Linked DNA regions of Homo sapiens: region 1 is linked to region 2. The links come from fine-mapping of genetic effects on gene expression. Tissue or cell type: whole blood. Region 2 holds a variant in brackets; the other region holds the start of a gene. All regions are shown on one strand. Distances are between the middles of the regions.

Region 1 (5,150 bases), 250 kb before region 2:
AAGGTGATAGGGAGAATTGGAAGACACAGAAAAAGAATGATTTGCATGGGGATAACTGATGGAGGAATCAACACCCTCAAGAAAGGAGGATAAGAAAAGATTCAGAGCAGAGGTAGAGAGATTGGCCTTAAACTTGAGAGAAGAAAAAGGAGGTTCACAAGCTATTTACAGTATTTAAGAAAGCCTTCTGGAAATTGCAATTAATAGAATGTCAAGTTTCTTTACTTTTTGCAGGCATTAACTCAACCCTTTGGGTTAACACTGGTTATTGCATGCTGATCAGAAATTCTAATTTGCTGGTAATGACATCATAGAAATGTCTAGGATGTGATTGGCAGACCATATATTGTTGGCAGAGTTATCTGGTTTTTACAATACCCAATTCTTACAACATGTGATCAACCTCTGATCAGAATGACAGCCAAAATTAAAAGACTATTTGCAGGGAACAGTGCCTAAGTGTTTGTACACTTATTTAACTTTATTGCTTATTAGCATTACATCCATGACAGTGATGTATGTGATTTCATTTAAGTGACAAAATCTTTCAAGATATAAAGTCCATGGATGAAAACATAATAAAGAGTCCTTGGATGAAGAGAATGGGAATGAGTAGACAAGATCTCTACAGTCCCTTCATATCTAATATTCTATAATTTTAAGAGGGGCCTATAAGCACAAGTTCAGGAATGGCTAAATGGGAAAGTTGTAAAGAATACTTGACAACACCCCAACTAAACAATGACTCACTCTAAACAAGGCAAGGCAAGTAGAATGGCAAGCAATGTAAATAACCATTCCCATCTGGAAGGCAACAAGAAAAACCATTTAAAAAAGGTGGGGTGGGAGCGAGAGGAGAGTAGGGATAACAATGCTTTATTAAGGAAATGGAGTGCTGGCTTTATTGAGAATCACAAAACATTAACCAACGTTAGTAGCGGGGATGATTGTCATAAGCACATTAAGAAAAATTTTTTTTGGCTAGGCTTGGTGGCTCATGCCTGTAATCCCAGCACTTTGGGAGGCCGAGATGGGCAGATCATTTGAGGTCAGGAGTTCGAGACCAGCCTGACCAAAATGGTGAAACCCCCGTCTCTATTAAAATACAAAAATTAAACGGGTGTGGTGGCGGGCGCCTGCAATCTCTGCTACTCGGCAGGCTCAGGCAGGACAACCATTTGAACCCAGGAGGGGGAGGCTGCAGTGAGCGAAGATCACGCCACTGCACTAGAGCTTGGGCGACAGGGTGAGACTCCCTCTCAAAAAAAACGAATTTTTTTGGCACATCGACCTAGCCAAACTTGCGTAAATACAAGTGAGAGTCAGACTCTTTTCTCATCAACACCTACACTAAGTTAGGCTCCTTCTGTACCTTCCATTCGGAACTTTGGTGTACTTTCGCCCACCAGAACTGGGCAAACTGAGGACATTAAAAAAACGGTTTAAGAGAAACTGGCCAGAGCGGTGAGTTAAGTGTTAAGACTGGTTTCACTCCTGGGTTGGATGCCAGCAATCCATCGGCCAGCACCATCAACTGGATCCATCAATCCAATCTGGCCAGCACCCAGGGGCAGCCAGACTGACCAGCCAGGCCACGGATAGCCAGACAATAAACGACCTTAGGGTGTCCTTCGCATCCCGCTGGGCGGGTTCTGGCAGTAGAAGGCTGAGAAAGGGGAGTGTTGGGGAAGGAAGGAATGGGACGATGTGTACTTTTCTCCCGGAACTGTAGTTCTATTGCCCCAACCTGGGCTCAGGTAGCGGCCAGTAAACTAGGAGACAGCCCTAAGGCTCGCGTCCGGGCCAGGCGGGTACCCCTAGTACTCTCTCCCCACACCCCCATGGCTCTGCCGCAGCCGCCGCCGCCCGCCGGGGCGCGTGACCCGGTGACCCCGGAGCACTGGGCATCCGGACCCCCCTCGCAGGCGCAGCCGCTATTAAGGCAGGAGGCTAAAGAGGAGGAGGAAGGGGAGGAGACAGGCGTCCAGGGCGCCTGGGGAACCGGCACGGCGGAGCAGCGGCGGCGGGGCTGGGGGGAGGCCGCCGAGTCGGCCGCGGCCGAGGAGGGGCAGGCGGAGGTCGGGGGCGCCGCGGCCGCGGGGTCAGGTTCCCCGGCGGGAGGCGCAGGTGGCGGCCTGGGGAGCTGGCGGCCGCTCCTCGCCTGGCTGCAGCGGCGGCAGCCCCAGTGCTGCCCCTGTGCGGCGCCCCTTTCCCGCTCCGCCGCGCACTGTTGTCATGGAGGAACCAAGATGGCGGCTCTGGCCTACAACCTGGGCAAGCGGGAGATCAACCACTACTTCAGCGTGAGGAGCGCCAAGGTGCTGGCGCTGGTGGCCGTGCTGCTGCTCGCAGCGTGCCACCTCGCCTCCCGCCGCTACCGAGGTGAGCGGGCCCTCCCCTCTGCCCGGGCAGGCCGTGGGGGAGGCGGCGACGCGGCGGCTGGAGGCCGCCCCCATCGCCCAACACACGCCCACGCGGCCTTCCGCCGGCCCGGCCCGCGGGGGAGGCGGTTCCCCCAGGTGTCCCCAGCAGCGGCCGGCGCCCGAGGCCAACTGAGTGGACCCCAGTGGGGGCCACCAAAGGACAATGGCTGGTGGTTCTGGGCGCCCCGAGCCGCCCGCGCTGGGGTCGGGGGCGCCAACCCTGGACCTGGCCAAAAGTGCTGCTGAGGTCCGGCTCCTGAGCGGTCTGGGTTCGGGGAGACGCTCCAGATCAGGGGCTCGCGTGCAGGAAGTCGGACAGGCGGTCCTTGGGGGCAGCCCGGGGCGCATGAAGCCCAAGGCCGCCCTGCAAGGGGCACCGCTGCCAGCAGTGGGGTCGCAGGTCCTGCCTCTTAAGGGTCCGGCTCCTTAGCCTTTGTTTAATTTTGCCTCTGCCCTGTAACACCCAGTCTGGGCTGTTGGACAGCGGCAAGGGCCGCCCCCATTTTCCTTTGCCAAAAGGGCGACAGCTGGCAAAAGATGCCTGTGGCCAAATGGAAGAGGTGCCACCCAGCTTTTGTGATGCAGAAACGTTTAAAGGCTTCGGAGTGCACACTTTTTACAAAGTTAAGGCACCAGAGCAGATTTTTGGAAGGAAGTTGTGGGTTGACAGGCGTAAAGGTGGGCAGTTGAAAGCAAGTTGTAAGCACTTTGAAAGCAGGCCTTGGCCATGGGTTTTGAAATTGGTGTAAAGGGGAAAAGGAAATATGACCTGATTTGAGAATGAATTATCTTTCAGTAATCAAGGGATATTTACTTCTCCTTGCTGATTGATTGTTTTTTTTCCTTTGTAAAAATGTCACTGGGAGAGAGGCTGACAGGCAGAGGGAAATTAATAATGATAGGATCTTTTATTTTTGGCTCTTAATACTATCAAAGCCATTATCTGGCCAGCTCTTGGTGACTGTGAGATTAATCAGTCAAGATGTAATGTGTAATGGACAGGTGCAAATTAGCGCTGTGCCCGTTTAAATTTACACCTACTTTGGCAAAATATCCATAAACGGGTTGTTGGAGTCTGCGCTGTATTCTCATCCCAGGAGATCTTTCAATTTTGGTCAGTTTTGCTGCTTTATTTCTTCCAACTCTTGAGAATTAAAAATATTGTACTCTAGAGCCATACTGGGTGAACAGCTTTTAGTATACTAAATTGATTTTAAAAATTAGATTCTTTATAACCTTTTGGCCTCTCTCCAGCTCTCTCCAGATCACAGCCATACGACCTTGCAAGGCCTTGGTTTATCTACAATCATGTAAAACTAGCAATGTTGATGCATTGATTTGTGGTGGTTTTGAGGAAATATTTCTTTTAACTACTATTAATCATTTTATGCCAATTTGGTATAAAAGAACAGTAATTTAATTCAATTTATGTAATGGTAGTAGAGAGAAATTTTATAACTACAGTACTATTGTCCTAAGATAAATAAACATCTAGTCCCCTTCCTTTTATTTTTTTGTGCTTTTTATCTTTTGATAACCTTGGACTACTATTATTTTTAGATTATAGATTTCATCTTATCAAGATCTGTCATCAGCAGGGAGAATAGAATGTCAGATGGGGACTTATGAGTCAGTGTAGCAATCTGGGATTGTTTATAAAGCCTTCTCCAGAAGTAAGTCATCAGTTTCCATAGGTACTTCAGTGCCTTGAGTGTGAAGCATACACCTGGTGAGTGTACTTGCCCAGACTGAATGTCAAGAATTTGAGCTGAAGACTGGGAAAAATAAACATCTTACCAGGAATATCCTCATGCTTTGGCAGTATCAAACTGAGTCAGGTGCAATGCCCTTCACACAAAGATAATCATACATTTGACTCACATTATAACTCTTTAGGACAGAGGTGGCCAATCTTTTGGCTTCCGTGGGCCCCATTGGAAGAAGAAGAACTGTCTTTGGGCCACACATAATATTAACACTCATGATAGCTGATGAGCTTAAAAAAAATTGCAAAAAATCTCGTATCATTTAAAGAAGGTTTACGAATTTGGGCTGCATTCAAAGCCATCCTGGGCCTCCAGCAGCCCAGGCCATGGCTTGGAAAATCTTGCTTTAGAATAAGAAAGGATCTTACATTAGATGAAGGAGATTAGGCTGTGTATTTGGATTTTGAATGTGTGAGTATGAGTGTGCTGAGGCAAGGTAGAGTGAATGCAGTTTGGATATACATATTCAGTATCTCTTGCTTTACAAACTACCGAAAGTAAAGGAAAGAATTACCCACTACAGAAAGTAAAGCTTGGCGAATACTGTGTGCTAACGTTGAGCACTTATATGTCAGGGACTGTTCTACTAAAGGTTTTACATGTTTTAACTCATTTTGTCTTTATAACCATTCTATGAGGTAGATACAATTACCATATTTCACTCCTCTCCACTATTTTTAACATCTTTGTAATCAGGGTGAGTCTTTAAAACTTTGATTGCATGTCAAAGTTTAATTGGTAACATTTTTTTCTTACTGTGACATAAAATAATCATGTGTCTAATAATCAGTGGTCTTAGATTCAGTGAATTACAGTATTATTTCCATTTTAAATATGAAGCATGACAGATTAAATTGCCTAAGGATACACAGTGACTGAGCTAGGATTTAGATCCCAGTTAGTCTGTCTCATGCCTTATGTTACAGTCTGTCTTTCTCAGAACTTCTTAGACAGTGGGGAG
Region 2 (5,150 bases):
AAAAGCAGCTCCTGGATTCATTGATTTTTTGAAGGTTTTTTTGTGTCTCTATCTCCTTCAGTTTTGCTCTGATCTTAGGTATTTCTTTTCTTTTGCTAGCTTTTGAATTTGTCTGCTCTTGCTTCTCTAGTTCTTTTAATTGTGATGTTAGGTTGTCAATTTTAGATCTTTCCTGCTTTCTCTTGTGGGCATTTAGTGCTATTAATTTCCCTCTACACACTATTTTAAATGTGTCCCAGAGATTCTGGTACATTGTGTCTTTTTTCTCGGTGGTTTCAAAGAACTTCTTGATTTCTGCTGTCATTTTCTTATTTACCCAGTAGTCATTCAGGAGCAGATTGTTCAGTTTCCATGTATTTGTGCAGTTTTGAGTGAGTTTCTTAATCCTGAGTTCTAATTTGATTCCACTGTGGTCGGAGAGACGTTTGTTATGATTTCCTTTTTTTTTTTTTTTGCATTTGCTGAGGAGTGTTTTACTTCCAATTATGTGGTCAATTTTAGAATAAATGATGTGGTGCTGAGAAGAATGTATATTCTGTTGATTCGGGGTGGAGAGTTCTGTAGATGTCTATTAGGTCTGCTTGGTCCAGAGCTGAGTTCACGTCCTGGATATCCTCGTTAATTTTCTGTCTCGTTGATCTGTCTAATATGGACAGTGGGGTGTTAAAGTCTCCCACTGTTATTGTGTGGGAGTCTAAGTCTCTTTGTAGGTCTCTAAGAACTTGCTCTGTGAATCTGGGTGATCCTGTATTGGGTGCATATATATTTAGGATAGTAAGCTCTTCTTGTTACATTGATCCCTTTACCATTATTTAATGCCCTTGTCTGTCTCATTTGATCTTTGTTGGTTTAAAGTCTGTTTTATCAGAGACTAGGATTGCAACCCCTGCTGTTTTTCTTTTTTTTTTTTTTGCTTTGCATTTGCTTGGTAAATATTCCTCCCTCCCTTTATTTTGAGCCTATGTGTGTCTTTGCACATGAGATGGGTCTCCTGAATACAGCACACTGATGGATCTTGACTCTTTATCTAATTTGCCAGTCTGTGTCTTTTAATTGGGGCATTTAGCCCATTTACATTTAAGGTTAATATTGTTATGTGTGAATTTGATCTGGCCATTGTGATGCTAGCTGGTTATTTTGTCCATTAGTTGATGTGATTTCTTCCTAGTGTTGATGGTCTTTACAATTTGGTATCTTTTCGCAGTGGCTGGTATTGGTTGTTCCTTTCCATGTTTAGTGCTTCCCTCAGGAGCTCTTGTAGGGCAGTCCTGCTGGTGACAAAAATCTCCCAGCATTTCCTTGTCTGTAAAGGATTTTATTTCTTCTTCGCTTATGAAGCTTAGTTTGGCTGGATATAAAATTCTGGGTTGAAAATTCTTTTCTTTAAGAATCTTGAATATTGGCCCCCACTCTCTTCTGGCTTGTAGGATTTCTGCCAAGAGATCCCCTGTTATTCTGATGTGCTTCCTTTTGTGGGTAACCCGACCTTTCTCTCTGGCTGCCCTTAATATTTTTTCCTTCATTTCAACCTTGGTGAATATGATGATTATATGTCTTGGGGTTGCTCTTCTCGAGGAATATCTTTGTGATGTTCTCTGTATTTCCTGAATTTGAATGTTGGCCTGCCTTGCTAGGCTGGGGAAATTCTCCTGGATAATATCCTGAAGAGTGTTTTCTAACTTGGTTCCTTTGTCCCCATCACTTTCAGGTACACCAATCAAACATAGATTTGGTCTTTTCACCTAGTCCCATACTTCTTTGGGGCTTTGTTCATTTCTTTTCACTCTTTTTTCTCTAATCATATTTTCTCACTTTATTTCATTGAGTTGATCTTCAATGTCTGATATTCTTTCTTTCGCTTGATCGTTTCGTCTATTGATACTTGTGTATGCTTCACGAAGTTCTCATGCTGTGTTTTTCAGCTCCATCAGGTCATTTATGTTCTTCTCTAAACTGGTTATTCTAATTAGCAACTTGTCTAACCTTTTATCGAGGTTCTTAGCTTCCTTGCATTGGGTTAGAACATGCTCCTTTTGCTTGGAGGAGTTTGTTATTACGCATGTTCTGAAGCCTACTTCTGTCAATTTGTCAAACTCATTCTCCATCCAGTTTTGTTCCCTTGCTGGTGAGGAGTTGTTATCCTTTGTAGCAGAAGAGGCTTTCTGGTTTTTGGAATTTTCAGCCTTTTTGCACTGGTTTCTCCCCATCTTCAAGGATTTATCTACCTTTCATCTTTGAAGTCAGTGACCTTTGGATGGGGTCTCTGAGTGGATATCCTTTTTGTTGATGTTGATACTATTCCTTTCTGATTGTTAGTTTCCCTTCTAACAGGCCTCTCTGCTGCAGGTCTGCTGGAGTTTGCTGGAGGAGGGACAAGGCCTGAAAGCCCTGCTTGCTTTCTTAGCAGGGAGGCATGTAGCCTGGTTCAAGATCTCAGTCCTGAGCACCAGGGGCCTGGATATAAACTTGGCTCTGTTTGCTTTTGGGGGAGCATGGGAGTGAGACTGGCCTTGCTGGCTGTTGGGAAGCTGGGTGAGGCCTGTCACTGCTGGCTTTTTCTTACTTCCCTGGCAACCTGTACAAAGCAGCATAGGCAGCCATAATCCCCCTTGGAACCAAACTCCATTGGCCTGAGAACCACCCCTCATCCCCCACAGTGACCATAGCAAGCCTCGTCTGAGGAGAGTCTGAGCTCAGACATGCCTAACCCTGCCCCCACCTGATGGTTTTTCTCCACCTGCCACAGTAGCCAAAGACAAAAGACATAAACCCGTGGGAGCTCTACAGCCACATCCATCACCTGAGAGACTTGAATACTTATCCAGGTGACCTTAGGGCAAGCTTGTATCACCCCTATACTACCACAACTGATGCCCTCTTGAAAGTGCCACCTTCTGGCTGGAGGCCAACCAACTCGAGCATTTACAAAAACTCATAACAAAACAAACCCTGTTCCAAGGAAGAAAATAATAGCTAATTCCACCACCTATAACATCCTGGCTAACCAGAGGTCCTGAGTCTGGACACGGGACAACTTCACTGTTAGCATAACCAGCATTTGAGATAACGAGCATGCTAAACAAAACTACAACCAAGGACTTTCACAGAGTCCACTTCACTCCCCTGCTACCTC[C/T]ACCAGAACAGGAGCTGGTATCCATGGATGAGAGACCTGAAGATGGATCACATCACAGGACTCTTTGCAGATACTCCCCAGTACCAGCCTGGAGCCCAGTAGCTCCAATGGGTGGTTAGACCAAGAAGAGAAGTAACAATCACTGCAGTCCAGCTCTCAGGAAGCCCCATCCTTAGGGGAAGGGGAAGAGCACCATATCAAGGATCATCCTGTGGGACAAAAGAATCTGAACAGCAGCCCCTGAGTCCCAGATCTTTCCTCTGACATAGCCTACCCCAATGAGAAGGAACCAGAAAAACAATTCTGGTAATATGACAAAACAAAGTTCTATAACACCCTCAAAGGTTCACACTTGCTTACCAGCAATGAATCCAAACCAAGACAAAATCTCTGAATTGCCAGAAAAAGAATTTAAAAGGTTAATTATTAAGCTACTCAAGGAGGCACCAGAGAAAGGTGAAAACCATCTTAAAGAAATTGTTAAGAATGCAGGATATGGATAACAACTATCCAGAGAAATAGATAGCATAAATAAAAATCACAATTCCTGCAAATTAAGGACACACTTAGAGAAATATAAAGTGCATGGGGAAGTCTCAGCAATAGAATTGAACAAGTAGAAGAAAGAACGTCAGAGCTTGAAGACAAGGCTTTCAAATTAACCCAATCTGACAAAGACAAAGAAAAAACTTTTTTTAATGAACAAAGCCTCCAAGAAGTTTGCAATTATGTTAAATTATCAAACCTTCCTGTTTCAGAGGAAGAAGAAAAATATCAAAGATTGGAAAACATATTTGAGGGAATAATCAAGGAAAACATCTTTGGCCTTGCTAGAAAACTACATATCCAAATACAAAGCTTCCCTGGCCTTGCTAGAGAACTAGATATCCAACACCCAGGAAATTCATTACAAAAAAAGTCATCACCTAGGCACATAGTTAACAGGTTATATAAAGTCAAGAAGAAGGAAAGAATCTTAAGAGCTGTGAGGCAAAAGCATCAGGTAACCTATAGGGAAAACCTATCACATTAAAAGCAGATTTCTCAGCAGAAACCCTACAAGCTAGAAGGCACTGGGGTCCTATCTTTAGCCTCCTTAAACAAAATAATTATCCAGCAAGAATTTTGTATCCAGCAAAACTAAGCTTCATAAATGAAGGAAAAATAAAGTCTTTTTCAGACAAACAAATGATGAGAGAATTCACCACTGCCAAGCCAGCACTACAAGAACTGCTAAAAGGAGTTCTAAATCTTAAAACCTCAAAATACACCAAAATAGAATCTCCTTAAAGGATAAATCTCACTGGGCTTATAAAACAATAACACAATGGGAAAATAAACCAAGATATTCAAGCAACAATTAGCACAATGGATAGAATAATACCTCGAATCTCAATACTAACATTGAATGCAAATGGCCTGAATGTTCCACTTAAAAGATACAGAATGGCAGAATGGATAAGAATTCACCAACCAAGTATCTACTGTCTTCAAGAGACTCACCTAACCCATGAGGAATCACATAAACTTAAGGTAAAGGTGTGGGAAAAAATTCCATGCAAATGGTTGGAAATGAGCAGGAGTAGCTATTCTTATAGCAGACAAAACAGACTTTAAAGCAGCAACAGTTTAAAAAGACAAAGAGGGACATTATATAATGATATATATATATATAGTGATATATATGACATTATATAATGATAAAAAGATTAGTCCAACAGGAAAATATCACAATCCTAAATATATATGCACCTAACACTGGAGCTCCCAAATTTACAAAACACTAACAAATAAGATAGACAGCAACACAATAATAGTGGGGGCTTCAGTACTCCACTGACAGCACTAGACAGGTCATCAAGACAGAAAATCAACAAAGAAACAATGGAATTAAACTATACTGTAGAACAAATGGAATTAACAAATATTTACAGAATATTCTACCCAACGACTGCAGCATACACATTCTATTCATCGGCACACAGAACGTTTTCCAAGATAGACCATATGATAGGCC

Evidence for each region. PIP is the estimated chance that this variant, and not a neighbour inherited with it, causes the effect.
Region 1: CASD1 starts here. The variant in region 2 is fine-mapped to the expression of CASD1 in whole blood (TOPMed, PIP above 0.99).

What each region holds. Positions count from the first base shown.
Region 1 is chr7:94,507,836-94,512,985 of GRCh38, forward strand. CASD1 (CAS1 domain sialic acid O acetyltransferase 1) reads left to right here and starts at 1,974. Exons shown (of 18, transcript NM_022900.5): 1 at 1,974-2,382. The coding sequence starts at 2,250. RefSeq lists enhancers at 1,259-2,247, 2,248-3,234 and silencers at 1,768-1,987, 2,028-2,177, 2,278-2,637.
Region 2 is chr7:94,754,554-94,759,703 of GRCh38, forward strand. No RefSeq gene overlaps it. Among named protein-coding and RNA genes, the nearest start is that of PEG10, 100 kb to the left of the region's middle. The variant C/T (reference allele first, on the strand shown) is at 3,134.